Linked DNA regions of Homo sapiens: region 1 is linked to region 2. The links come from fine-mapping of genetic effects on gene expression. A gene starts in region 2. The other region holds a variant in brackets. All regions are shown on one strand. Distances are between the middles of the regions. Region 1 has its middle 23 kb from the start of FGFBP3-AS1. Region 2 holds the start of TNKS2 (tankyrase 2).

The links. PIP is the estimated chance that this variant, and not a neighbour inherited with it, causes the effect. A credible set is the group of variants that fine-mapping cannot tell apart.
Region 1: its variant is the best candidate, but not a certain one, in a credible set for the expression of TNKS2 in esophagus mucosa (GTEx, PIP 0.69).

What each region holds. Positions count from the first base shown.
Region 1 is chr10:91,877,139-91,892,343 of GRCh38, forward strand. No RefSeq gene overlaps it. Among named protein-coding and RNA genes, the nearest start is that of FGFBP3-AS1, 23 kb to the right of the region's middle. RefSeq lists enhancers at 3,974-4,475, 4,476-4,975. The variant C/A (reference allele first, on the strand shown) is at 7,657.
Region 2 is chr10:91,791,280-91,806,484 of GRCh38, forward strand. TNKS2 (tankyrase 2) reads left to right here and starts at 7,147. Exons shown (of 27, transcript NM_025235.4): 1 at 7,147-7,610. The coding sequence starts at 7,412. TNKS2-DT (TNKS2 divergent transcript) reads right to left here and starts at 7,012. Exons shown (of 2, transcript NR_108071.1): 1 at 6,958-7,012. It also overlaps the pseudogene SRP9P1. RefSeq lists an enhancer at 6,856-7,025 and a silencer at 7,106-7,515.

The DNA.
Region 1 (15,205 bases), 86 kb after region 2:
GGGTTTCACTATATTGGCCAGGCTGGTCTCGAACTCCTGACCTTGTGATCCACTGACTCAGCCTCCCAAAGTACTGGGACTACAAGCGTGAGCCACTGCACTTGGCCGTATTTATGTATTTTTTACATATCAAATTAAAATTTTTTATTTAATCATATCTCTTAATTTTCATGTTCTTCTATATGTCCTCATCTTGAGATCATATAAATATTCATCTTCATCATACCCTAGCTCTATTTTTCTTTAAATATTTGACTCCTAGATCTATTTGGAATTTATTTTAGAATATGAGTGAAGTAAAGATTTGACTTAATTTTAATTTTTCCCTAAATCTTTTGTATTAGAACCACTTATTATATTATTTATTCTTCTCCCATTGATTTGAAATACCATTTTTTATTGTTCCAATAATTGTCACTGTTTCTTCTTGTAATAATAACACATATTTTAATTATTATTATAACTTAATAATATATAAAGGATCCTCCTGCTTCAGCCTCCTGAGTAGCTGGGACTGCAGACAGAGCATCACCTGTAATGCAAATTCAGGGAAGGAGTCTTAACACTGCATCTTGTTTACGTGGTACACACTTTTTATGCCTGTTGTCCCCTAAAGTGAAACCCATTACTTTGGCTAATGCAACCTAAATTGAGATATTTTATTCTATATGATGGAACACTATGCACCCATTAAAAATAACCTTCCCTAGGCCAGGCATGGTAGCTCACACCTGTAATCCCAGGACTTTGGGAGGCCAAGGCAGAAGGAAAGCTTGAGGCCAGGAGTTCTAGACAAGCCTGGGCAACATAACCAGACCCTGTCTCTAGCAACAAACAAAAAATTAGTCAGGCATGCTGATGATGCTCTGTCTATAGTCCCAGCTACTCAGGAGGCTGAAGCAGGAGGACACTTTAAGGCCAGGAGTTTGAGGCTATAGTGAGCTATGATCGCACTACCATACTCCAGCCTGCGAGACAGAGCCAGACCCTGACCCTTTAAAAAAAAAAAAAAAAACGCTAGGCATGGTGGCTCACATCTGTAATCCCAGAACTTTGGGAGGCTGAGGTGGGAGGGTGGCTTGAGCCCAGGAGGAGTTCAAGACCAGCCTGGGTAACATGGCAAGACCTTATCTCTATTATAAAAAGAAATATAGGCCAGGCGCAGTGGCTCACATCTGTAATTCCAGGTGTGATTTAAGTCAAATCCTTACTTCACTCATATTCTAAAATAAATTCCAAATAGATTTTGGGAGGCCAAGGAGGGTGGATCACTTGAGTCAAAGAGTTAGAGACCAGCCTGGGCAACATGGCAAGACCCCATCTCTACCAAAAAATATAAAAATTAGCCAGGCATGGTGGTGTGTGCCTCAGGTCCCAGCACTCAGAAGGCTGAGGTGAGAGAATTTCTTGAGCCTGGGGGGCAGAGGTTGCAGTAAACCATGATAATGCCACTGCACTCCAGCCTGAGTGACAGAGGGAGACATTGTCTCAAGAAGAAAAAAAGAAATATATATATATAATATACATTATATAATATATAGTAAATATATAATATACAGTAATATAATATATATTAATTGTATAACCTTTTCCAAATAAGTTTTTTGTTTTTTTTTGAGTCTCGCTCTGTCACCCAGGCTGGAGTGCAGTGGCTGGATCTCAGCTCACTGCAACTTCTGCCTCCCAGGTTCAAGTGATTCTCTTGCCTCAGCCTCCCAAGTAGCTGGTATTACAGACATGCGTCACCATGCCCAGCTAATTTTTGTATTTTTAGTAGAGACAAGGTTTCACCATGTTGGCCAGGCTGGTCTCAAACTCCCGACTTCAGATGATCCACCTGCCTTGGCCTCCCAAAGTGCTGGGATTACCGCGCCCAGCAGAAGAAATTTATTAAAATGTATTGGATATAATATTAAAAGATTTAGGATAAACAATATGATCCCACTTTGTTAAAGCAAAAATAACAAATCACCTGTCTACATGCATAGAAAACAGATTATCAATAAATTAATACACCAAAATGTTAATGGCAAGCTATCTCTAAGTAATGGGATGATGGGTGATTTTTACTTTGCTGTATTTTTCATCATTTTCCAAATTTTCTACAATAAATATGTGTTACCATTATAATCAGAACAATCAGTAATCATTATGACTTAAATGGATATTTTAAGGTCCACTCCAGTCCTGGTTAGGGTGGTTGGATTGTCAATCTCACCCCAAAGACGAGACGGCTCTTTCTCTCCATGAGAGCAAGGATGGGCATCCAGCCCTGAAAAGGGATGCATTCACCACTTCAGTTCAGTTCTTTTGATTGGGAGACACTGCCATTAGATATTAAATGCCAAATAACATCATCTGGAATCACATGGTGACCCTTTGTGTTGCCAGCTGGGAGAGGGGTGTGTGGCATCACCTCCCACTTACCCTCTCCAAACCCCACCCAGAAGGGCTGGGAAGACACAGAGATAGTGTGGTACTTCAGGGTGGTATGCTAATGCAGGCCTCTAATCCTATCAGGAACGCTTAGGGTGTTAATTTGACCATCTTTCACAGCTCATAAATCTACTGAAGCAAAGCCAAGCTGCCAGACACCATCAAGCAAAACTCCTTCTGAGGCTGGCAGTTGGAGTAAAGCAGCCGGGATCATGCCACAGTAAAGTCCAATAAAGAGCTTTGTATGTGGGGGACTGGAGAGCAGCTTCTCACATTTGGATACAATAGAACAAAACAGTGGGAAATGTGAATGTCTGATTAGTCAGACTGGTGGTCTCCCCCATGCCCCCCCTGCCCACTGAGCCATAGATCCTCATTCATTCACAATTCTTTACACGCAGATGGATCTATCTTGCTCCCAAACAATCGCCGGCACAGACTCCCATCGGATTAGTTTGCTTAATCCCTGTGTGTAAATACAGACCAACTGTATTCACTTCCATTGGAATCTGCTAGCCTTTTTATATTAAAACCTATTTAACTTCAGTCAAATCACTCCTGCCTAGATCCATTCTCTCTTTATTCGGTGGTCAGAATGGAAACATTCTTCTCTTTCAGGAACAGAGCATTCCCCCAGAAGAGTTCCCACTGTTGACAAATAGGTGGGGTTTAAAACTGTCAACAGAAATCAGTGGCAACCTCCGGATTACAGCTTCATCCAGAGTCCATCTGTTCCTCAAATCAATCTGTTTAAAAATCGGCTGATTAGGGATTCTAAGTAAAAACATCCTTTGGAGCATCCATTTCAAGAGACATTGAGGCAGGCAGTTAGATTTTCATCAGCTTCCTCTTTGGTCCACACCTCTTGGAGGGCAAGTTGCAGCAGTTTTCTGCCTCTAGGGACAGAAATCTCCTCTGACCGAATCTGCAGGCTGGCAGGGGTGGGGAGGGAGTGGTGATTCCACATGGTCCAAGACTGGAAGTACCAGAAAAACTGAAGAAAGACCCACCCATTCTGCAGTTCTGTACAGGCAACCAATGACATTCCCACAGAGTGTGAGCAAAGACTCCTATTTCCTCAGGGCGGACTTACTGCATGCCAGGAGCCCAGCACATTTAGGAGTTTCCAAACACAGTGGAAAAAGGAATCAGAAAAGATCCTCCACTTACTGGCCTTGGGCCTTGGGCAAGTTTCTTTAACCCTTGAGCTCTAGTGTCCTCATCTGGAAAATGGATTTAATAATATTTTCTATGTGGGATTATCTGGCTCATAGTACAGGGATGTGATACATGCCAATTACGATTTTTGATAGTGTAGTTTGAAAAATAACTGTTATTGATACTATTATTAGTGGTGGTAAATTTCAAAAATAACTATGATTATTGATATTATTGTTGTTGCTGATAGTGCATTTGATAAATAACTATGTTGTGGTTATCATTATTGCTGGTAGTGCACTGTTAGCTATTGCTGTCTCCATATAATGATGAACAGACTTTAAAAGAACTGAGTAAAGACCATATAAGCCCATTCACTCACCTGGCGGGTGTTTTATTGAACACCTTCTATTTGCCAGGCATTATTCTAGACACTGGGGCTACATCAGTGGAATCCATCCTTGTGAAGTTTACCTTTTAGTTGGGGGAAGACTGACAATAAAAACAAGTAAGTAAATTATATTGAATTTAGAATGTGATTAGTGATATAGGGGAAAATAGAGCAGGGTGGGGAGGATTGGGAGTGAGCTGTGAGAGAAGGGGCTGGTGCAGCGGAATTTAACATGAGGTGGTTTGGAAGGCCTCACTGAGAAGGTGGCATCTGAACAACTGTAAAGGAAGTGGAGGAGTAGGCCGTGGGGAGTGTTGGGGGAAAAGCATTCTACGCACAGAACAGCAACTGCAGAAGCCCTCAGGGGATCCTGCCTGTGTGCTTGGAGAAGGCTGGAGTGGGATAGAGTGGGAAATCGTGTCACAGATGCAAAGGTGGGTCACCCAGGATCAAGCTAGGCATTTTTAGCACTTTAGCTTTTTACTCTAAGTGAAATGGGGAGCCACTGCAGGGTTGTGAGCAAAAGCAGTGGCATGGTTTGACTTAAGCTTCAACAGGATCACTCTGGATCCTCTTTCCCGCTTGCAGACAGCTGCCTTCTCACTATGCCCTAACATGTTGTGAGGGGGGTCCACCCCTCATGATTGAAAGAAAGAAAAATTAATTCCTCGTCTATGTCAAGGGGCACAGTGAGAAGCAGTTGTCTGCAAGCCAGGAAAAAGTCCTCACCAGACCTCGGTCATGCTGGCACCCTGATCTTAAACTTGTTGTCTTGTTTTCAAGGTCACTAATCCCATCATGAGGGCCCCACCCTTATGACTTTATCTAAATCTAATTACCTCCTAAAGGCCCCATCTCCAAATACCATCACATTGATGGGTAGAGCGCCTGTAGTCCCAGCTACTCCGGAGGCTGAGGCAGAAGAATCACTTGAACCTGGGAGGCAGAGGTTGCAGTGAGCTGAGATTGTGCCACTGCACTCCAGCCTAGGCAACAAAGTGAGACTCTGTCTCAAAAAAAAAACAAACAAAAAAAAGAATCCTTACACATGTATTTTTCCATAGTGGCTTTAGAATCAGTTTGTAAAATTTCACACTTCATCCCTCAAATAGGTTGACATGTTATTAGGTCATGAAAATTTTGTATATTAATTTAGGAAGAAATTAAGTTATATTATTGAATCTTTCTGTACAAGAATAGTATATAAGCAGACTGGGGAACACAGTGAGACCTGGTCTCTACAAAAAATTTTTAAACAAAAATTAACCAAGTGTAGTGGCATGCACCTATAGTCCCAGCTACTGAGGAGGCTGAGGTGAGAGGATTGCTTGAGCCCAGGAGGTGGAGGTTGCAATGAGCCGAGATCTCACCACTGTACTCCAGCCTGGGCAACAGAGTGAGATCCTGTCTCAAAATAATAATAATAATAATAATAGTGTCTCTAAGTAACAATTCTTCTCATTGTTACATTTATTCTTAGGTATATATTTTTTGTTATTATATAAATGGAATATTTTCTTCCATTACATCTTATAACTGCTTTTTATGTATAAATAGGAAAGCTATTAATTTTTATTTATTAATTTTATGTGCACCCATCTTACTGAATTTTTTTATTGTTTGAGATGGTTTTTCAGTTGATTTTCTTGGGTTCAGATAATATCTGAATTGGAAGTAAAAATAATTTTACTTTATCCTTTAAATTTTTTAAACTTTTTTTTTCTCTTGACTAATAACATCAGCTACTATTTGCAGAACAATGTTAAATAGTGATGGTGGGCAGTCTTATCTGGTTCTTGACTTTAAAGAAATGTTTCTAGTGTTCTTCCCTTAAGCATGAGGCTGGCTTTTGGCTTATATATAAAGTTGACTTATATATTTTAGTTACCAAAAGTGATTCTTACCAGAATCGGCTGGGGAATCTTCAGGTTAAAAATAGTCTTCTGCAGCCAGGGCAACTAGTGAAACTCCATCTGTACCACAAAATATATATATATATATATTTTTTTAATAAGCCGGGGGCAGTGGCCTGCTCCTTTAGTCCCAGCTACTCGGGAGGCTAAGGCCGGAGTGTTGCTTTAGGCCAGGAGTTCAAGACTGCAGTGAGCTATGATCCTGCCACTGCATTCCTGCCCAAGTGGCAGAGTGAGACCCTATCTCTAAAAAAAAAAAGGTTCCTGAGTGTTGCCCAGAGGGTCAGTTTCAGAAGGTCAGAGTGGGGCCCAGAAATCTATATTTTTCCTGAACTTCCTTGGTGGTTCAGATACAAGTAACATTCAGCCCAGACTTGAAGAATTCCAGTGGATAGAAAGCACTTTAGAGTCAGCTCTGGGCTCAAGAGGGCAGCTCTTTCCCCCCATGTCATTTACTCCCTCTGAGCCTCAGTTTCCCATGCTGCTAAAAGAGGGAGAATAATCACATATGCCCTGGCGACTGGAAGAGGGGCTAAGAGGCTCAGATGAGGTAATGTCTGTGAAAACATTTGGCAGACTAGAAACGGCATATAAATGTGAGGAGGCGTGACCTCACTGTGCCCAAGAGGAAAGATATTTGGAAAAGCCTGACTGATTTTCAGGGCTCGGCGACAGCTCCTAGCGAGACTTGGACAGCCTGCTTCAAAACCCACACTTACATTCCACGAAACACGCTCTGCTTCCTTGTCAACAGGCTTTGCGTCATGTTAGGTCAGCTTCCACTGCTCAGGGCTTTGTGCTGATCATGCATTACGGGTTGGCTTCAGAGGCACAGACACCTTACCGCCTGTGTGTGATCCAGGACTAATGAAAAAAGTCCTCTCCGGCCACACCCCGTTCCCTGCCTGGTCCCCGTGGAGTCTCCGGCATTTGAGAGAGCTTTTGTGGCTTGAATCTAAGTCACAAAACTCCCCCTGCTAATCCCATGGGGTCACAGTTGGACCTAGTGCTTCAGGGGAGGACCAATAAGACAGAATCCATTTTGCATTTCCCTTCCTGCTTTCCTACGGAGAGATGTAAAGGTCCCTAGAGGTGAATATAATAAGATAGAGCCAACGTGGGGATGTTGCTCCCTGGGGCGCTGCTTGAGTGGTGTGACATCATGTTCTTAGTCTGAGCTTCAATAGATCTCTTAGAATGTCAGAGACCCGTCTTCTCCTAGAAAAGGAGTTCCTACCCTGTGGTCTGTGAGCTAATGAAAATGCAGGCTGCCTCAGCCTGGATTAAAAGAGGTTTTCTTTCCCGTTTCCCATTTAAAGACCCTGTAGGCTTGAAATTACCATTTAAAGCAGGAGATAAATTGCCAGAGGCCATTTCATGCCAAGGTACATTACAGAGCAGAATGTCAAAGTGTGCTTAGCCAGGAGACAGTGATGGGCAAATCCTGCTCTCTGAGAGCAGCAGGCATAAAATGTGGCCCCCGGGTAGAGGGAGGGCCCTTGCTTCCAGCCCCCATACCTTGTCTCCCTTCACCAGCAGGAATATTCTTTCTTTTGTGGCCTCTTGTTTAGGCTGTTCTTGACCTTTCATAATTAAAATACTCTGAATTTTGGCAGGCCTTGCGCTTTTTTTTAATAAAGAGGGGGAAGCCATTTGAAGATAGAAACAAAATTGCTTGGATGGTTGCCTGTGAAGTTACAATTATAGCAATGACTGAAGATGGAGAACAGGAATTGAGAGAAGAGGGATTTTTTTCCC[C/A]TAGCTGCCAAAATGCTGGATTTTATGTCCTTCTGTGAGAGCCTGCCATTATACATTTTAGACCCTAACTCATCAACAGTGAGTGCTAAAAGACATTCTTGAGGAAGGACTGGTTTTTGGATACATCTAAATTTTTATTAGCTTTTGTTCCAGTATCAGTAAACATTCCTGAGTGCTTACTAGAGGCAGGGCAGTGAGAAGCAGAAGGACGAATCAAAGAACAATTATATCCTAGCACCTGCACCATGCCTGCTGGCCAAGTGTTTTCCTTGAGAAAACCTAAAAACCTTAGCTTCCCTCCCTTTGCCTTAGTAATTCCCCAAACTTTGCTGTTCATTGGAATCACCTGGAATGTTTTTTGGAAAATTCTGATCCCAGACTCTCACGCTAGACATTATGATTTGATTGTGGGGAGTTTTTTAAAGCTCCCCAGGTGATTCCAACGTCCAGCAGTGTTGGAGACCCACTGGCCTAACTTCCGCTCTTTCTTCAGGTTTCAGTTTAGCATTTCTTCCTTCAGGAAACCTGCCGGAATTCTCCTTCTTCCCCCGTCTTCACACAGCTGTGACCCCGAACCCGTGGAGTATCGCTCCTTGAGGGGCTCCTGCAGCACCTGGTACTTGGCCTTGGTGATATGGACCACTTGATTCAACACTCTTCCTCTGGTTGAATGGGACATCCCTGAAGGCAGGACCAATGGCCCGCTCATTCTCCAGAGCCTGGCTCATCATGAGCCCTTGAAGTACTAATTGAAGGAGTAAATTCACATTCTCCTTGGACATTTCCTTTCACTCTTTCTGTGCATGCTAATTTACTTTCTCTAGTAATAATAAATGTCATTTTGTTTTGCATGCTGCTATGGTTTGAATGTTTGTCCCCTCTGAAATTCATGTTAAAACTTAATCCCCAATATAACCATATTAAGAGGTGGATTAGGGTCAGAAGCGCTCTGCCCTCATGAATGGATTAATCCATTGATGGATGAATAGCTTAGTGGGTTATCACAGGAGTGGGTTAGTTATCATGAGAGTAAGTCTGTTATGAAAGCCAGTTTGGGTCTCAGTGCACCCCCACCCCCCTTGCCCTATGATGCCTTATGCCATGTGATGTTGCCGCATGGGACCCGCACTGGAAGCCAACCAGACGCAGTTGCCAGATCTTGGTCTTTTCAGCCTCCAGAACTGTAGGAAATAAATCTCTGTTCTTTATAAATTACCCAGTCTTGGGTTTTCTGTTATAGCAACATAAAATGGACTGACGCCCACTTAATCACACTGTCTCTAATTTTTATGGTCATTGAGTCATGTAATAAAAGTGAAGCATTTACACTCTTTTAATTTAATGTATTTATTCTTTTGAAACAGAGTCTTGCTCTGTTGCCCAGGCTGGAGTGCAGTGGGGCAATCTCAGCTTACTGCAACCTCCACCTCCTAGGCACAAACGATTCTCATTCCTCATCCTCCTCAGTAGCTAGAATTACAGGTGAGCGCCACCACACTGAGCTAATTTTTGTATTTTTAGTAGAGACAGGGTTTTCCCATATTGGCCAGGCTGGTCTAGACCTCCTGACCTCAAACCATCTATCCACCTGGCCTCCCAAAGTGCTGGGATTACAGGCGTCAGCCACTGCCCCTGGCCTCTTTTATGCTTTACTATATTTATTTTATTTATTTATTTATTTATTTATTTATTTATTTTGAGATGGAGTTTCGCTCTGGTTACCAGGCTAGAGTGCAATGGCACCATCTCTACTCAGTGCAATCTCTGCCTCCCAGGTTCAAGCGATTCTCCTGCGTCAGCCTCCTGAGTAGCCGGGGTTACAGGGGCATGCCACCACACCCAGCTAATTTTTGTATTTTTAGTAGAGATGGGGTTTCATCACACTGGTCAGGCTGGTCTCGCCCACCTAATCCGCCCGCCTCAGTGATCCGCCCGCCTCGGCCTCCCAAAGTGCTGGGATGACAGGTGAGCCACCGCACCTGGCCTCTTTTTTATTTTTTATATATTTTATAAGATTTTTTAAAAACAGTGCCAGCTGAAGCTGTCAAATAAAAAATCCCACAATGTGGTTAATCTCAAGAGAAGGTTAAATGATTAGACTTCGTTCTGGAGCATTATTTGTGAAAACATGTATTTTCATTTAGGTCTCCATAGACCTAAAACCTGATTTTCTCCCTATTATTAAAAAGGTTTATATTTTGTAAAATATGCTTCATAAATTAGACAAAGGCAAATCAATGAAAGTGTCTCCTTTTTGTTTGGTTAATGCGGATTTAATGAAAGGGCACACACACATTTCTGAAGTTGTAGCTCACTTTATTGCCAAAATTAAGACAAAGAAACAAATCTGCAAACAGAGGGGCCCCTGTAACATCATCGCAGGGGTCAGATTACAAGGCTGGGAGACAGGGGCCTTCAGAGCCACGGTAATTGTCCCCACGTTCCGGGCCCCTGCGATGCCCACAGACTTCTTAATGTCTCTCTTTGTAACACCCCAGGGCCGCGTGAATAGCGGGGAAGGTAACGTGACTGCGGAGCTCAGGGCCGGCCCGGGAGGGGCGCGGGCCTGGCCAGTGGGAAGGTCGGACGCCGAGGGGCGAAATCACCCCACCGGCATCAGACCACCGCCTCCATTCAGCGGAGGAATGTGGGCGGGCAGAGGACGCGCGGTCCCCTCGCCCGGCGTTAACCCTGTGCGCGCCGGGAGCTTCGCCCGGAGCATCGCAGCATCGCGCAGCGCCCGGAGCCCGGGGCCCTCACAGCTCCACCGGTGCCCGGAGCATCTATCTCCCCGCGGGCGGTGCTGCCACTCGCCACGTTCACATTCCTCCACGTGCACGCGTGACTCTTTTGGTGTTATTTTTAAAAATCTCACTATTTAATCGCCATGTTTACCTTCCCCAGAACCACATAGTCTCATCGCAATTCAAATAATTTAGAAAACATTTTAAGATAATCGTGGAGCCCACGAAGCCAGTGCAACGTAGGTGGCTTCCCTTGCTGGAAGTCACCGCACCGAGGCCAGAAGAAGGTAGCCAGCGCCCAGGCAAGCGCTTAAAACTGCAGCCTCCTCCACACCTTTGCACGTGGGGAAACCGAAGCAGAACCCTGTCTCTTTCACTTTTCTTCCCTTCGCTAAGACTTTTTTATATTTGTAAGTGGAGGCGCGATCCAGTTAGCTTTTCTCCAAACTTTTAATGTAGAAAATATGCAAATCTACAAAAAAGTTGAACGTGTAGTGCAGTAATACAATTAACACCTGTAGATTCTTCACCTAAATTCACTTCTTAGCATTTTGCCCTACTCGCTCTATCCTTTGTCTGTATAGAGAGATTCCTCTCTCCTGCATTATTTGAAAGGAAATTGCAGACCTCATGACAATTTGCCCCAAAATAATTCACATGCAGCAACTAGGAATAAGTACATTTTCTTATGTACCAACAACACCATTTATCACACCTAAGAAAATCAACGCTAATTTAATATCTCCTAAAATATAGTCCTCATTTAAATTTTCTTATTTTTCCCAAAATGCCTTTTAACTAAAATTTTTTTTAAATCCAGAATATGTTAAAGATTCATGCATTGCATTTCGTTATGTTATTTGCTTTTTATGATAATTTTGTTTTAAATTTTAATTATTTTCAGCCTGTATAGCATATTTCTGGAATTTAAATTTGGGGGCTGTAGTTATTCTAGAACTGTGTCTAGTTAGCACATTTAAAAACCAGGCTTTTGAGGGAAATTATTTGTTGCTGAGCTTCTGGTACACACAAAAAAAGGGAGGTTTCCTAAGCAGACCACATTTGCTTCCCTGGTCGGGGGTCTGATGCAATAAAACCCCCTTTCCCAGGATTTCTCTTCCAGAGTCAAATGTCCCATAAATAAAGACATTTAGTCTTTTCATTTTTTCTTACCTCCCGTTTAGATCTTGATGATTTTCTGCTGCTTTACAACAGCCCTGCCCAAACCCAAATTAAAACACTCTCTTTTCTTCTTCTTTTTTTTTTTTTTTTTTTTTTTGAGATGGAGTCTCGCTCTGTCGCCCAGGCTGGAGTGCAGTGGCGCAATCTCAGCTCACTGCAACCTCCGCCTCCCAGGTTCAAGCAATTCTCCTGCCTCAGCCTCCCGAGTAGCTGGGCCTACAGGTGCACCCGCCACCAAGCCCGGCTAATTTTTGTATTTTTAGTAGAGATGGGGTTTCACCGTGTTAGCCAGGATGGTCTCGATCTCCTGACCTCATGATCCGCCAGCCTCGGCCTCCCAAAGTGCTGGGATTACAGGCATGAGCCACCGCACCCAGCCTAACCATTCTCTTTTCTCTTGTTAGATGACAATTAAAAACATTTTTAGGTTGGGTGTGGTAGCTCACGCTGTAATCTCAGCACTTTGGGAGGCCGAGGTGGGTGGATCACTTGAGGTCAGGAGTTTGAAACCAGCCTGGCAACATGGTGAAACTCCATCTCTACTAAAAATACAAAAATTAGCCGGGCGTGGTGGTGGGTGCCTGTAATCCCATCTACTTGGGAGGCTGAGGCAGGGGACACTTGAACCCAGGAGGCGAATGTTGTGGTGAGCTGAGATTGCACCACAGCACTCCAGCCTGGGCAACAGAGCGGGACTCCCTCTCAAAAATAAAAATAAAAAAAATTTAAATCTTCACAAGCCCTGTTGCTCTTCTTATCCCATATGTGGACCTCGGAATTCTTTCCCTCTAACCCCATTGCCTTTTTCTCCACGCCTATCTATAACAAATGTCTATCAAGTGCTAGCTATACAGCAAACACTATATTAAGTGCTTTATACATATGTCATCCTCAGAACAGTCTTATAAAGTTAGCATCATTAGTATTACTTCCATTTTAAAGATGAGAAAATTGAGACTTAGGATAAGTAATTTGTCTCCTAAGTGTGACATGGCAAGACATCACTGGGTCTTGAACGTTGGTTATCTGACTCCATAGTCTACATTCTCAGTGGTCCCCAACCTTATTGGCACCAGGGACCGGTTTTGTGGAAGACAATGAAACTAACTGTCCCATCTCAGATCATCAAGCACTAGTTAATTTCTCATAAGGAGCACTCAGCCTAGATCCCTCGCATGCACAGTTCACAATAGTTCTCATTCCTATGAGAATCTAAGCCTCCGCTGCTCTGACAGGAGGTGGAGCTCAGGCGGTAATGCCCACTCGCTGGCCACTCACCTCCTGCTGTGCGGCCCAGTTCCTAACAGGCCAAGCTCAACCCGGAGGTTGGGGATCCCTGCTCAGTACGACATACTACCTTTGAGACTTTTAGCTTCTCCAGAGCCCTCCCTTTATTTAATACGTGAAGAGCCTGTAAAATTGGGAGGTATTTCCATACATCAGATTACTTTACTGTGCCACTATTTTCATAAGTCGTTTGGTAGAAAGTGGTGACACTCATGTGCCTATATTAAGCACGAGGCCAATATTTTCACTAAATGTCATTTAGGAAACCCATATCAGCTACTACCTCACTGAGGCATAGAACACCACTGGTGACACTCTAGGGAGTCAGAAAATATTAAATCATCCCCCAAGCCAGTAGTTCTCAGATGTCTAGAATTCCAAGACTAATAAAACCTTCTAAGACATTTTGGGGAAAGACATAAGGTTGCCACTTTGATACTTTGCCAAGTGAAGACATTAAACTTTTCAAACTACCATCTATAATACTAGCATCATCATTTTATTAAAAAAAAAAAAGGATATTTTAAACCCACCTGCCTCCACCCCTGCAAAAAAAAAAAAAAAGGACATAATCACAGAATAAAGAATAATCCTTAATCTGATCAATTCAGTGCTACCAAAATTCACTATATTGTCCTTGTTTTTCTCATTTTGTGGTAGACAGGTCTAAGCATCATCATGAACTGACTTTGGGTCTGCCCATAGAGGCTGGCACCATCATCTTACAAAGAAGGTGATGATTCATCAGGCACATCTTTATGTTAGCCAGAGTTACCGTGATGGAGTCTGCAGGCAAAGATGGAAGGGATTAGGCCCCTCTGTCTAACAAAAGCATGGAAAGTGGCTCCTCCTCATTAAGGCAGAAGCTCTGATGCATGTGGAAGGCTATGAATTTGGGACTGGTAGAAAGGCATTCTGGCTGAGCAGAAACAACGGATTAACAGAGACTAAAGGACTGAAGTATTTGGTGGAGGATGTTCAAGGTCTATGGCCTGATGATGAGACAGCTATGCTGTATTGGAAAGACCTTGGTTCAAGTTTCAGCTCTGTTTTGTGTCCTTGGAGAAGTCACTGAATGTCTCCGAACCTCTTTTCTCATTCACAAAATGCCATCAGATGAGGTAGATAAGAAGAGGATGTACAAAAAATGCTTTGTAAATTAAAAAAAATGATAAGAATTATTATTGTTGAGTTGTTTTGTTTTTTTGTTTTTTCAAGACAGCATCTGGCTCTGTCACCTAGGCTGATGTTCAGTGGCATGATCATAGTTCACTTCAGCCTTTAACTCTTAGGCTCAAGTGATCCTGCCAAGTAGCTATGACTACAGGCACATGTCACTACACTTGGCTAATTTTTAAAATTTTTTTTATTTCTTTAGAGACAGGATCTTCCTATGTTGCCCAAGCTGGTCTTGAACTCCTGGCCTCAAGTGATCCTCCACTCCTTGGCCTCCCAAAGTGCAGGGATTACAGGTGTGAGTCACCATGCCTGGCTGTTTCTTCCTTGTTTGTTTTGTTCTGTTTTGTTTGTTTTGTTCTGTTTTGTTTTGTTTTGCTTTTATGATAAAGACTTTAAAACAAGTATATGTGTTACAATTCTGGAGGCACAAGGATTTCATTTTGGAGCACTATTTAGATTTCATACAAGTTGGAAAACAAAGCAGTGGCCTTTGGAGATTTCATTCTTAGGCATGTGGGTAGAATACAGCTCCTCTCTGTTTTAAGTCAGTGCCAGTTCCAGGCTTCCTGGCCCTATCTAAGGGGTTGGTGCCTGGGAAAAGGCTGCAGTAAAGGTCAGAGGTGACCTTGCACAAGGGTAATGAGTCAGTGTGTGTGCATCCTTCATGCTCATGACAGTAGCACAAGCTTTTAAGAGGAGCAGTACTACCCTTATGGCCAGATGAGAAGGGCCACTGCCTAAGCCTGCTCTGGAGAGGGTCCTGCATATCACAAACACATTTACAAAAAAAATATTAAAGAGCACAAAAGTTCGTCCATCATTTGGGAGGGCTTGGGTCTGCCAGTACAACACGACCTGGCCATACTGTTTAGTCCCCAGGGAAATTCTTCTCCATATTTCTTGTCCAATGTTCTCAAAACAAAAGGGACTGCAGGTGACTGCTCCCGATGTTGGCAACTGAATTACTCCAGAGCATGATGAACTTGGTCGGCAGAAATCCTTGGGAATGAGAAAGGGTAAACTTGTCATGTCCTTCCTCTCTGATACTAGGAATGCAGTAGATTCTTGCATTACGACTTTTATTATTTTTTTATTTTTTGAGATGGAGTCTCATTCTGTGGCCCAGGCTGGAGTGCAGTGGTGCCATCTTGGCTGAC
Region 2 (15,205 bases):
AATATCAGACATAATGTGCACTATAGACCAAATGGAACTAATATGCATTGACAGAACATTTTATCTAATGGCTGCAGAATATACATTCTTTTCCTCAGCAAATGGGTCATTCTAAAGGATAGACCATATCTTAGGCCACAAAACAAGTCTTAAAACATTCAGAAATTGAAATAATAGCAACTGTCTTCTCTAACCACAACGGAATAAAACTAGAAATCAGTAACAAGAGGAATTTTGGAAACTATACAAACACATGGAAATTGAACACTATGCAACTGAATGAACAGTGGGCCAATGAGATTAGGAAGGAAATTGAAAAATGTCTTGCAACAAATGATAATGGAAATACAACATACCAAAAATAATGGAATAAAACAAAAGCAGTATTAAGAAAAATATAAACCTGTAAGCACCTACATCAAAAAAGTAGAAAAACTTCCAATAAACAACTTAATGATGCGTCTTAAAGAACTATAAAAGCAAGGGCAAACCAAACCTGAAGTTAGAAGAAGAAAAGAAACAATAAAGATCAGAGCAGCACTAAGTGAAATTGAAATGAAGAAAGCAACACAAAAGATCAATGAAACAAAATGTTGATTTTTTTGAAAAGATAAACAAAATTGACAAATCTTTAGCCGACTAAGAAAAAAAGAGAGAAGATTCAAATAAAATCAGCAGTGAAAAATGAGACATTACAATTAATACCACAGAAATTCAAAGGATCACAGCCAGGTGCGGTGGCTCACACCTGTAATCCCAGCACTTTGGGAGGCCGAGGCGGGTGGATCACGTGGTCAGGAGATCGAGACCATCCTGGCCAACACGGTGAAACCCCGTCTCTACTAAAAATACAAAAATTAGCCAGACGTGGTGGTGGGCGCCTGTAGTCCCAGCTACTCAGGAGGCTGAGACAGGAGAATGGCGTGAACCCGGGGAGACGGAGCTTGCAGTGAGCTGAGTTCGCACCACTACACTCCAGCCTGGCAACAGAGTGAAACTCCATCTCAAAAAAAAAAAAATTAAAAAAAAAAAAAAGAAATTCAAAGGAACATTAAAGGCTACTATGAGCAACTATATGCCAATATATTGGAAAACCTAGAAGAAATGGATAAATTTCTAAACACATAAAACCTATCAATCTTGAATCATAAAGAAATCCAAAACCTGAACAGAACAATAACAAGTAATGAAATCAAAGCCATAATAAAAAATCCTCCAGCAAAGAAAAGCCTGGGATCTGGTGGCTTCACTGCTAAATTTTACCAAACATTTAAAGAAGAACTGATCCCAATCCTACTCAAACTATTCCAAAAAACAGAGAAGGGAATACTTTCGAACTCATTCTACAAGGCCAGTATTATCCTGATACCAAAAAGAAAAACACATCAAAAAAAGAAAACTACAGACCAATATCCCTGATGAACATTGATGCAAAAATCCTCAACAAAATTACTAGTAAACCGAATTCAACAAGACGTTAAAAGCTCATTCATCATGACCAAGTGGGATTTATCCCAGGGATGAAAGAATGGTTCAACATACACAAATCAATGTGATACATCATATCAACAGAATGAAGGACAAAAAGCATATGATCATTTCAACTGATGCTGAAAAAGCATTTGGTAACATTCAACATCCTTTTATGATAAAAACCATCAAAAAACTGGACATAGAAGTTACATACCTCAACATAATAAAAGCCATATACAACAGACCCACAGCTGACATCATAGTGAATAGGGAAAAACTGAGAGACCTTCCTCTAAGATCTGGAACACTGCAAAGATGTCCACTTTCACCACTGTTATTCAACATAGTACTGGAAGTCCTAGGTAGAACAATAAGACAAGAGAAAGAAATAAAGAGTATCCAAACTGGAATAGAAGAAGTCAAATAATCCTTGTTTACAGATTATATGATCTTATATTTTGAAAACTCTAAAGACTACCAAAAAGCTTTTAGAACATATAAACAAATTCAGTAATGTTGGCTGGCTGCAGTTGCTCATGTCTATAATCTGAACATTTTAGAGGCCAAAACAGAAGGATTGCTTGAGCCCAGGAGTTCAGGATCAGCATAGGGAGACTCCATCTCAAAAAAAAAAAAAAAAAAAAAAAAAATAGCTGGGCATGATGGTGCATGCCTGTGGTCCCAGCTACTCAGGAGGCTGAGGTGGAAGGATTGCTTCGGCCCAGGAGATTGAGGCTGCAGTGAGCCCTGATCACACCACTGCGCTACAGCCTGGATGACACAGTTAGACCCTGTTTCAAAAAAAACAAAACAAAACTCAGTAAAGTTACAGGATACAAAATCAACATACAAAAATCAGAAGCATTTATATATGCCAGCAGTGAACAATCTGAAAAAGAATTCAAGAAAGTAATCCCATTAACCCATTTATAATAGCTACAAATAAAATTAAATACCTAGGAATTAACCAAAGAAGTGAAAGATCTCTACAATGAAAACTAAAAAACATTGATGAAAAAAACAATTTTCAAATTTATACAGATCCACAAAATACCCATAATAGCCAAAGCTATCCTGAGCAAAAAGAATAAGACTGGAGAAATCACATTACCTGACTTATCAAAACAGCATGGTAGTGGTATAAAAACAGACAGACCTATGGAACAGAATAAAGAACCCAGAAATAAATCCATACATCTATAGTGAACTCATTTTTGACTAAGGTGCCAAGAACACATATTGAGGAAAGGACACCATCTTCAATAAATGTGCTAGGAAAACTGAATATCCATATGCAGAAGAGTGAAACTAGACCCCTATCTCTCACCATATACAAAAGTCAAGTCAAAATGGATTAAAGATTTAAATCTAACACCTGAAACTATCAAACTACTAAAAGAAAACACTGGAGAAACTCTCCAGGTCATTGGACTGGGCAAAGATTTCTTGAGTAATACCCCAGAAGCACAAACAGCCCAAGCAAAAAATGGACAAATGGGATCACATCAAGTTAAAAAGCTTCTGCACAACAAAGGAAACAATCAACAATGTGTAAAGACAATCCACAGAATGGGAGAAAATATTTACAAACTATTCATCTGACAAAAGATTAATAACCAGAATATATAAAGAGCTCAAACAACTCAAAAGGAAAAAAAAAAAGTCTAATAATCTGATTTAAAAATGGGTGAAAGATCTGAATAGACATTTCTCAAAAGAAGACATACAAATGGCAAATAGAAGAGGGCGCGGTGGGTCATGCCTGTAATCCCAGCACTTTGGGAGGCTGAGGTGGGCACAACACTTGAGGTCACGAGTTCAAGACCAGACTGGCCAACATGGTGAAACCCCATCTCTACTAAAAATACAAAAATTAGCCAGTCATGCTGGCAGGTGCCTGTAATCCCAGCTTCTCGGGAGGCTGAGACACGAGAATCGCTTGAACCCGGGAGGCAGAGGTTGCAGGGAGCCGGGATCGTGCCATTGCACTCCATCCTGGGCGACAGAGTGAGACTCTATCTCAAAAAAACAAAAAACAACAACAACAAAAAACCCAAATGGCAAATAGACATGTGAAAAGGTTCTTGACATCATTGATCATCAGAGAAATGTAAAAAACATTTTCTTTGCTCATCCAAAACTACAGTGAGATATCATCTCATCTCAGCTAAACTGGCTTTTATCCAAAAGACAGGCAATAACAAATGCCAACAAGGATATGGAGAAAAGGGAACCCTTGTACACTTTTAGTGGGAATGTAAATTAGTACAACCCCTATGAAGAACAGTTTGAAGGTTCCTCAAAGAACTAAAAATAGAGTTGTCATATGATCCAGCAATCCCACTGCTAGGTATATACCCTAATGAAAGCAAATCAGTATATTGAGGAGATATCTGCACTCCCATGCTTATTGCAGCACTGTCCACAATAGCCAAAATTTGGAAACAACCTAAGTGTACATCAGCAGATGAATGGATAAAGAAAACATGGTGCATATACACAATGGAGTACTATTCAGCCATAAAAATGTATGAGAGCTTATCATTTGCAATAACATAGATGGAAATGGAGATCATTATGTTAAGTGAAATAAACCAGGCAGAAAAAGACAAACTTTTCATATTCTCACTTATGTGGGAGCTAAAAATTAAAACAATTGAACACATGGAGATAGTAGAATGATGGTTACCAGAGGCTGAGAAGTGAAGTGGGTGGGGGATGTTTAATGGGTACAAAAAATAATTAGAAAGAATGAATAAAACCTATTATTTGATAACACAACACAGTGACTATAGTCAATAATAATCTAATTGTACATTTAAAAATAACTAAAATAGTATAATTGATTGTAATGCAAAAGATAAATGTTTGAAATGACTGATACCCCATTTACCCTGATATGATTATTAGGCATTGAGTGATAGTATCAAAATATCTCATATACCCAATAAATATATACACCTGTGATGTACCCAAAAAATTAAAAATTCAAACAATTTTAAAAATTAAAAATAGATATTTTGTTGCTAAAAAATGCTAACAGTCATCTGAACCTTCAGCAACTTGTCATCTTTTTGCAGTTGGAGGGTCTTGCCGCAATGATATCGAGGGCTGCTAACTGATAATGGTTGCTGAAGGTTGGGGTGGCTGTAGCAATTTCTTAAGAGAAGCTAAAATGAAATTTGCCACATCGATTGACTGTTCCTTTCACAAAAGATTTCTCTGTAGCATACAATGCTGTTTGATAGCATTTTACCCACAGAGCTTTCAAAATTAGAGTCTATTTGGGTGTTGAAACTTAATGGCAAAACAAACAAAAAAATAGAGCCTATCTCTCAAGCTCTGCTCCTGCTTTATCACCTATGTTTAAGTAACATTCTAAATTCTTTGTTGTCATTTCAAAAATTTTTACAGCATCTTCACCAGGAGTAGGTTCCATCTGAAAAAAATTTTTTTTTGCTCCATAAGAAGTAACTCCTCATCCATTCAAGCTGGTTTTTCTGTTTGTTTTCAGAGACAGGGTCTCTGTCACCCAAGCTGTAGAGGAGTGCAGTGACATGATCACAGCTCACCATAGCCTCAAATTCCTAGATCCCTCACATGTGCAGTTCACAATAGGGTTTGCGCTCCTGTGAAAATCTAATGCTGCTGCTGATCTGACAGGAGGTGGAGCTCAGGCGGTAATGCTCACTCCCCGCCCATCCCCACCCTGCCTCCATCCCCCGCCCTGCACCTTCTCTGCTCACCTCACGCTGTGCGTCCTTGTTCCTTACAGGCTAGGGACCAGTACCGGTCCAAGGGCCGGGGGTTGGGGACCCCTGTTCTAGTTAACTTGCTGCAGCTCCTACATCAGTATTTGCTGCTTCACCTTACACTTCTATATTATGAAGACAGCTTCTTTCCTTAAACTTCATGAACCAACCTCTGCTAGCTTTTAACTTGTCTTCTGCAACTTCCTCAGGTCTCTCAGCCTTCACAAAATTGAAGGCAGTTAGGGCTTTGCTCTGGATTCAGCTTTGGCTTAAGGAAATCTTGTGGCTGGTTTGACCTTCTATCCAGACCACTCAAACGTTCTTCGTATCAGCAGTAAGTCTGTTTCACTTTCTTATCATTCATGTGTTCACTGGAGTAGCACTTTTAATTTCCTTCAAAAACTTCTCATTTGCATTCACAACTTGGCTGTTTGGTGCAAGGGGGCCTATCTCAGCTTTCAACATGCCTTCTGCACTAAGATGAATCATTTCTAGCTTTTGATTTAAAGTGAGAGATACGCAACTTTTCCTTTCACTTGAACACCTAGAAAACCATTGCAGAGTTCTTAATTGGCCTAATTTCAATATTATTGTGTTTAAGGGAACAGATAGGCCCCAGGAGAGGGAGAGAGATGGCAGAGTAGCCTGTCAGTGGGGCAGTCAGAACATACACATTTATTGATTGATTGCTGTCTTCTATGGGTGTGGTTTGTGGTGCCTCAAAACAATTACAACAGTGATTTCAACTTATCACTGATCATAGATCACCATAGCAGATTTATGGGAAGAAAAATGATAAACGCAATCATATTGGTAGTGTTCTAGTCCTAGGTTCGTTCATGCATGTTCATGTTATTGATAAGCACCATAACTTCAATTTCATATGTATAAAAATGCTCAAAAAAGTGTACATCCTCTTTTAGCACTGTAGTGAGTCAACATTCCCCAACAAAAACTGGATTTCCTGAAAAACAGGTTAAGGTAGGAGGTTGGGGGGGGGATGCTTTTCAGAATGGCAAAGGTCAACATGTATCATCTTCTGTAAGTAAAATGTATGTATAGGCATACCTTTCTTTCAGTTTAAGACAAGGGGGTGTAGTGGGGAATTATCGTGTAAAACTACACCAGTATCTTAAGCATGAAAATCAATTATATGCTTTTCTTTTGTTTGTTGGTCAAAGAAAAAGATTATAACTCAGAAAACTTTCTTGGAGATGCGTATGCTCAGTGTATCCAAACTTTAGGCATGTCAGGTACAATATTGATTTACAAAAAGTTCCTCTAATCAATCCTGAGCTAATAACTTACTGTGGAAAGAGTAATTGATCAGAGCCATCCCTCCAATTGGAGTCAACTTCCATGACTGTTCGGATTTCCTTTATTTTGGGGGCAGTTCATCCAAACTTCTATTAAACGGCAACTAGTTCACTTTTGAGAAGTGGTTTACAAGAAACAACAACAACAACAACAAAGCAGTTGCGGAGGAAAGAAAAGAGACAAAGTAAAAAAAACGGAAAAGAAATCTCCCAGGAGAAAGGGATGTGGAAGCTGAAAACACGGACAATTTCCACAGTAAGACTTCCAAAAGAATGTGCAAGATCCGAGCAAAACTTTCAAGGGCTCTTTTTCAGTGTAATGGTAGTGAGAAAGTTCAGCCTGGAAAGCCCAGGGCTTAAAACAACAACAACAAAAAACACAATATGCAGGATCGTTCGGCTTCAGCAGAACCCACCGCAAAGATGGCGGTGGGACGAAGCCCCTTCTCCCGCCGCCGAAGCCTCTCGCCTCACATTTCCCACAAACCCTTCGCGCCGCCTCGCTAGCCGAAACCTGCCCAGCCGGTGCCCGGCCACTGCGCACGCGCGGGACGACGTCACGTGCGCTCCCGGGGCTGGACGGAGCTGGCAGGAGGGGCCTTGCCAGCTTCCGCCGCCGCGTCGTTTCAGGACCCGGACGGCGGATTCGCGCTGCCTCCGCCGCCGCGGGGCAGCCGGGGGGCAGGGAGCCCAGCGAGGGGCGCGCGTGGGCGCGGCCATGGGACTGCGCCGGATCCGGTGACAGCAGGGAGCCAAGCGGCCCGGGCCCTGAGCGCGTCTTCTCCGGGGGGCCTCGCCCTCCTGCTCGCGGGGCCGGGGCTCCTGCTCCGGTTGCTGGCGCTGTTGCTGGCTGTGGCGGCGGCCAGGATCATGTCGGGTCGCCGCTGCGCCGGCGGGGGAGCGGCCTGCGCGAGCGCCGCGGCCGAGGCCGTGGAGCCGGCCGCCCGAGAGCTGTTCGAGGCGTGCCGCAACGGGGACGTGGAACGAGTCAAGAGGCTGGTGACGCCTGAGAAGGTGAACAGCCGCGACACGGCGGGCAGGAAATCCACCCCGCTGCACTTCGCCGCAGGTAACCGGGGCCAGCGTCCCCTCGCCTCGCTCCAGACCCCACCTGCGCAGCCGGGGCCCACAGGTCTGAAACCAGTGCTCCTCCGCCTCCCGACCTTTCTCCAGGACTCTGGTCCTGGTGATCTCGCTCTCTTCCAGTGGGGACTAAGGAGATTAGGGGTAGGGTGAGCGTGCCACACTCGCTGGAAGTTTTTTGTTTTGTCTTGGTTTGGTTTTTTTGCCAGGTGTTGGGGGTGGTTTGGGGTTTTGGCTTTGTTTTGTTTTACAGTATCAACAATACCTGTACCAACTTCCGGTCTTGTTACCCTAGAAGGCCTCTACACACAAGAAAGAGTAGGGGACGTAGTTGATAGACCTTATGATTTAAAAGGTCAGTTACCTCCAAAATTTTTCGTTCTTGCAAGTTCCATTTGGGTTAAGGTCTTGAAGGACTTTGTAAAATACAAGGATGTAATTTAGGAGGAGTAGCTTAATAGGACGTTGACACATTAGCGTTAATTGGTTTATCAGAATAGCCAATCATTACCAAGTTTCTGGAGTGACTAGAACGGGAAATAGGCAAGTTTGGGAGAACTGAAACCTGACTTAGGCTGGGTGCGGGAAGCCTTAGACACACACACATACAAGTTGGGCGGAAAGTGGTAGTATAAGAGAAAAGATAGTGCAAGTACTTTAGCTTGAATCTAGAATTTAAGTTGGGACTAACCTTGCTTCATTCTGAAATTTAGATCGTTTGAATTACATTATTTTAATATTTATTAGGTTCACTTTATGATTTAAGCATATTAAATTTAGTCGAAAAATTTAAAAGAGCCATAGATGGGATATTCAGCTTATTCCCATAAAGCATGCATGCTGTTCACTTGTAGGAAAGATGATGACTGTTTCTAACTTCAGGTGAGTCATGCGTGATTGAAAATGGGAGTACCTCCTCTTACCTCTGACAATCCTGGTTTTTTGTTTTGTGTATTTCATGATTGTTTAAAACAATTTTTTGAAAAATCGGGGAATACCTTTTAAAGTACTCCTGTTCTTTTGGGGCTAGATTGATGAAGAGAAAAGGAGCAGTGAGAAATATTTCCTCTTTCACAGATATTACTTTTACACTTTCTACCAATTGGAGATTTGTTCGCTTTAACCTGTTCCAGATTTTAAATGTAAATACTACCAGGAGGTATGCTTTTTTGATCAATTGCACCTTTGTTGGATTTCCATTGGGGAGTCTTTTAAAAAGAAGAAAGTTTAGGGAACCTAGGTGGGAGAACTAGAAACGGTTTGTGGGCAATGGAAAGAGAAGGAAGAATACTTAAGTCAAACACACCTAGTTAGCCTTTTTGCCCGAAATTTCGGTGGTAAGTGCTGCCGTTCTTCAGCTAATTTAGGTTGTCCTGTTTGACCATGTAGTCAACATTTAAACAACTCATTTGGCAAACTGTCACGATCAACTGATACATAAGCCAAAGGGTAGGGTTACTTAGATTCTGTTCACTTGATCTGTGGGATAAAAATAACCAAGAAAGATCTTAGTTGCTACCTTTCAAGAATTTGGTGTATTAGTGAGTTCATATCTGAAAATAGTAATATTTAGAGGTGTAAGATTATGTTATTAGATCCTCAGTGACCTTGTTCCTTCTCTGCCTTCCCACCTTCAGTTCTGTCCCAACGTTTCAAAGCATATTTTTTACATAGGTTTCATTTTGTTCAAGTTTGGAAGACTTAATATTTTGGAAACCAACCCACCCCTCACAACTTACCCAAATTATCAGGTATAGGTTATCAGATTAAGAGTTAAAGGTATAAAAAGGGAGTAATAAAAATTATGAAGTGGGGGTTCTTCATTCAACCAGAGCTTTTGAAGTCCTGCACTTCAATCATATAAGAAACTTTTTTAAAAATTGGGTTTGTAAATTTAATCTGAATTTTAGGTTCATCAGAGAGAAGCTTTTTAAGTGCATCCAGCTACCTTTTCACTTAATATATGGAGAATATACTTTATAATCTGTTGTAGGTAGTGAGTTATCAGTCATGTTAATGTGCCTGCAAGCATACTGTTGGAAGTTCAACACAGGTGGTGGTATTATGTAACTGCCTGATCAAGCAGTTTCTTGTGTTTGTACTTCAGTCATAGAGTGAGCTATTGGAGGTGATGGGGGACATCATTATTTTAAAATTTTTTTAGCTGATTAAAGTTTGGAGATTTTACTGGGGGAGGCATGTTTTTGTCTTTTTGTTTTGATTCCCAAGTAATATTAGGACTGAGAGATTCGTGCAGACCACAGAAAATGAAAATTAGTTTAGAAAACATTTGCTTTAATTTCATCCCCAAAAGTTAGTTCAATTAAAAGAATAATCCGTTGCTAGCACCAAGAGAGTTAAATTCTGTTAATGAAGAAGATAGTCAACATAAACAGGAATTTTCCTTCTACTAGGTGTTTTTTTATTACTGAACTAGATTGCATACTTTTCTTCTAGATAAATATTATTTAAGAAGTAATTCCTTAGGAGAAAAATGACTCTGTAAATTGTTTCCTTTTCAGTCCGCCTGCCACTGCCCCCGACCATACGCAGATATACACAAGACAGGAATTTTTCTTTTTTTTTTTGAGATGGAGTCTAGTTCTGTCTCCCAGGCTGGAGTGCAGCGTCACGATCTCAGCTCACTGCAACCCCCACCTTCCGGGTTCGACCGATTCTCCTGTCTCAGCCTCCTAAGTAGCTGGGATTACAGGTGCGCACTGCCACGCCCGGCAAATTTTTGTATTTTTAGTAGAGACAGGGTTTCAACATGTTGGTCAGGCTGGTCTCAAACTCCTGATCTCGTGATCCGCCTGCCTCGGCCTCCCAAAGTGCTGGGATTACAGGCGTGAGCCACTGCGCCCGGCCAGGAATGATTTTTTTCCAACACAACAGAATTTGTAGAGGCAAGTTGGTGGTAGGGTGGCTGTTGCTCTAATTTTACTAAAAGCAAAAGTATCTGAAATTCTTGACAGTTAATGCCCTAGAAAACAGCAAATTTCAGTAAAGAAGACTCTGCTTCTGTGAACTTATTTCTAAAAAGTAAAGAAGAGGTGACACAAACTTGGGGAGAAAGTTATCTTGATGCCCATCATAGAAATGAAAGAAATATGTGGCATTCCTTACAATCTTAGAACTCTTGGAGTAGGGGTAGGAGCTTGCATTGTAGAGTCCTAGCTAAACAAGGTAACACTTATTTTATATTTATAGTATGTTATGTTACTGTTAGTATGAGTATGCTACTGAACCACATACATAGGACCAGTTAGACCGGACTTGGATTATTATATTCAATTGTGTGAATCAAATATAAGAGGGGATTTTTTTATTCAGAGGAGGAAAGTGGAATCAGAGCATCCAGAATTTATTGCACAAGCATAGATACGAAAATTAGTGCTGCTTATTCTAGAGATGAAAGAAGACTATACCATGTTATCGTCTTCACATATGTGGAAGAATCACAAAGAGTGAGTGGATATTACTTGTGTGGCTTTGGGAGTCAAAACTAAGGCCAGCAGGTGGAAGGTTACAAGGGGTCAGACAACCTTTAACAATATTCAGCGATCGAACTGTCTGGAAGTATCCAAGCAGTGGCTGGATTGGCATTTTTCAGAGATGTTGTAGAGAGGATTTCAGCCTAGTTCGACCAACAGGTTATAATCTCACTAGTACAAGAAAGTGGGATGATTCCTCCAATTGAAGGCTTTAGCTGCTCAGCTACCAAAGATATACTAGCTTTTGTGATTGCCATTCATATCTTTTCCCAAAATGATAACCATTGGAGACCTCCAATAACCTCTCAGTAACATTTTCTTCTTTGGCTGTAGGCCAACATCATAGTTACAAGAGATGCACAAAATTTATCCAACACTCTTCACCTAGAACTACAGTTATAGATTGTTGTTTTCAGGATTGGTTTTTGCTATGGGAGATAAATCATACATCAGCAGGAAACCCTAGTGTCAAATAAAGATCAGTCTATTTAGGAATTCATCATCTTTCTTGACTTATCAAATCTCCCAATGTATTATCAAGACTTTGAGCTATACCTTTGCCCTCAGCGCTTGCTGGATTTGGAGGTAGACAGTTGACTTCAATAACAAGAGTTTGGAGTACTCCTTTCAGTGTACCCCCATTCAGATGGTCAAAATTTCATCACCGTAGAGGCCATGGCGTTCTTTTCCAAGTTTCTACTAATCTGGCCAGACAGTATGTCTATCCCAAGTTGAGATGGGCAAAGTCCTCTCCCTTGTATTCTTCGTTCTTAAGAAGTATATGTGGGAAATAATTTTCTGGATCTTAGCAAACTAAAGTTAATAGTAAATGAGGCCCGGGCACAGTGCCACAGGCTATAATCCCAGCACTCTGGGAGGCAAAGGCAGGAGTATCACCTGAACTCAAGAGTTCAAGACCAGCCTGGGCAACAATGGTGACACCTCATCTCTACAAGAAAATAGAAAAATGAGCCGGGCATGGTGGCACAGAACTGACACTCTGGGAGGCAAAGACAGGAGTATCACTTGAGCTTAAGAGTTCAAGAGCAGCCTGGGCAACATGGCGAAACCCCATCTCTACAAAAAAATAGAAAAAGTAGCCAGGCATGGTGGTGCAGGCCTGTAGTCCTAGCTACTTGGGAGGCTAAGGTTAGAGGATTACTTGAGCCAAGGCTGCAGTGAGCCGAGATTGCGCCATTGCACTCTAGGCTGGGCAACAGAGGGAAACCTTGTAACACAAAATAGTAAATGAGAAGTTTAAAATGACATTCCTCAGAAAAAATGTGTCACTGAGAGTCCTGGCTAAAGGTTGCTTGAAAGCTGAAGGCTGTTTGATTATACCTTCCAATCTCCCAGACTACAGGAGCTTTGTTTTGTGGCATTTGTTGACATTTTTCCAGAACTTTGCCTTTGGACAAAACCCTGTGTGATAGCCTACCTTTAGATATTGCAAGACATCACCATCTCATATGGGACCAATTGTGTTATCAGTGATTAATCCCACCTTTGGACTATGAAAGACAGGAGGGGGATAGCATTTAGTTAAACTTCCTAAGAGTCTAAGTTGGTTTCTCTGTAGGAACTTGACTGCCTCACAGCTTTTGGGAAACCATTCAGATGAAAGCATGTTTCCAGTGTAGCAGCAAAATGTGATATTATTAACAATAGTCATAGTTAGCAAGCAGTACCTGGAGTTGCTGAAACTGATGGCATCTAGATAAGTAATAAATTTGACAAGAGGCTGCTTTTCTCTGTTTTCACAAATCATTAACACCATATTCTTTGTGAGGATCCTTTCCTATTCCAGCAGAGTATTAGACATGCATTAAACAAATGTTTGTCAAGTCCTGCTATATGCCAGACACTGACCTTGTCCCTGAGTAAACTGAAATGAACAGGACACAATACCTGCCATTAACTGACACATGGTTAATGTGGTCAACAAGTATACTTTACAGATAGGCCTGCTTTGCTTCACTGTAAGTACTATATAGTAGATTCATACTCTGTGTATGGTTTCATCAGAATTTTCACAAGTAGAACAGTGTTTGAAGTTGAGTGCTGTTCCATAATTACAAAATAAACTACAGTGTGTCCTGAGCAGCCATGACTACCAACTTTATTTAGGCTTCTGGTTCCTCATAAAGAGATCCTTAGAATATGGAGATTTACATTGACTCTGATGATATGCCTATTCATGTTCTACCTGGCCAGTGAGAACATGATCAGAATATACCCTGCAGAGCATTTTTTCTTCCAGAAATTGGTGCTTAACAGAAGTACTTTGAACTATTCTTGAGACCATAACAATAGAGATTTTATCAAGGATTACTCCTCAGTTTGGGAAGTATGGTTTTTTGGGGGTTGTGGGGGTGAGGCACAGAGTTTCACTCTTGTCGCCCAGGCTGGAGTGCAGTGGTGCGATCTTGGCTCACTTCAACCTCCACCTCCCAGGTTCAAGCAATTCTCCTGCCTCCTGCTTCAGCCTCCCGAGTAGCTGGGATTACAGGTATGTACCACCACGCCTGGCTAATTTTTATATTTTTAGTAGAAACAGGGTTTCACCATGTTGGCTATGGTGGTCTCGAATTCCTGACCTCAGGTGATCCACCCACCTCTGTCTCCCAAAGTGCTGGGATTACAGGTGTGAGCCACAGTGCCCAGCCAGGAAGTATCTTCAATCTAAAGATTTCGCCAAACTCCAAGCAACTTTTTTTTTTTTTTTTAAACATAGCTACCTATTGACTGCCTCCAAATAATTTCCTTTAAGTGCCCAAGATGTGGCTTCAAACATTAAAATCTCAGACTATTAATCTACTGTCTCAGCATAGCAGATTACATTCACTCACATATTGTAGTCCTTACAGTGTGACTGTAAAATCATACCTCTACTATCAGTCACCAGACTGGTTTCAGACATCTTAATGACTAGGGAATCATGTTGATACAGACATTGACACAGAAGTCTGTGTCTTGGAATGTTGGTAACTATGTGGATATAATCACTTTACCCATTCTACCCATATCGATCGCCTCAGCTAAAACTTCAGTTTCAGTTATGTCTTTCTCTTTAACTCTGATTTCATGCAACCCTCTTCTCTTTCCAGCCTTATTTTGACAGAAGGCTACTACTTGACCTTCCTTTAGATCACCAATCCTTTGGGACAGATATCTTCCCAGTTGACACTGTCTCTCATAACAGCTAGTTATTTTACTCCAGCTATTTCTGTGCACATCTAACTCTCCTTTCTGGGGGAGTTAACCTGTGAGTCACCATTTTGATTACTTCAGATATGCTTATTACTGCTGAAGAATAGTAATCCTTATTCTAAAATGCTTGGGTACATCAAATAACTTTATAGAGGTAGCTTTACAGGTTTTTCTTTATTTTGATTCTTTTTCTCTTACTCTCCAATTTAAGAAGCCTTTTTCTAAAAGCACTTCCTGCAGGTGGGTGCTAAGTGGTTGGGATAGCAGAACCATAGATTAGGGCAACTGTAGATAACCTACTTGGGGAGGACAGTGTGATCAGCAATGCCCAGGAAGTGATCAGGAAGGAAGGCTGAAGTCAGGGCTAATGACAGCAAGAGCTGACCTTCCCCTCTGACATTTTCCTACTTGGCTTCTGCAATGCCATTCTTTCTCTTTTTTTTTTTTTTTTTTTTATATTTTATCTAATATTTTATTTACTGATCTCTCTGAAACATGCCAAAATTCATATAGCTAAGGGAACTTACCATGCTAAAATGTTGTTCAACATGACAAATTTATACAAAACATATTTCAATGTAGTGCCTTCATTTCATTCTTGAGGAATCAACATTACATTTAGGTGGTGAAATTTAGGATACAAATATAATTATCAAATATCGTACTTCTAGTTTACTGGAAAACATAACAGTTGTGACAGTAACACCTAACACCTTGGTTAATTAAAGACAGAAAATGGGCAGGGGTGTCACAGAAGTATGCAAGGATTTGACAGTTCAAACTAATCCATAGCCCTTCTGAGAAACTACAGATGGAAAATATGTAGTAAATATTTCTGTAATATGGTGGTTTCAGTACATTATAGCACAGTGATCAT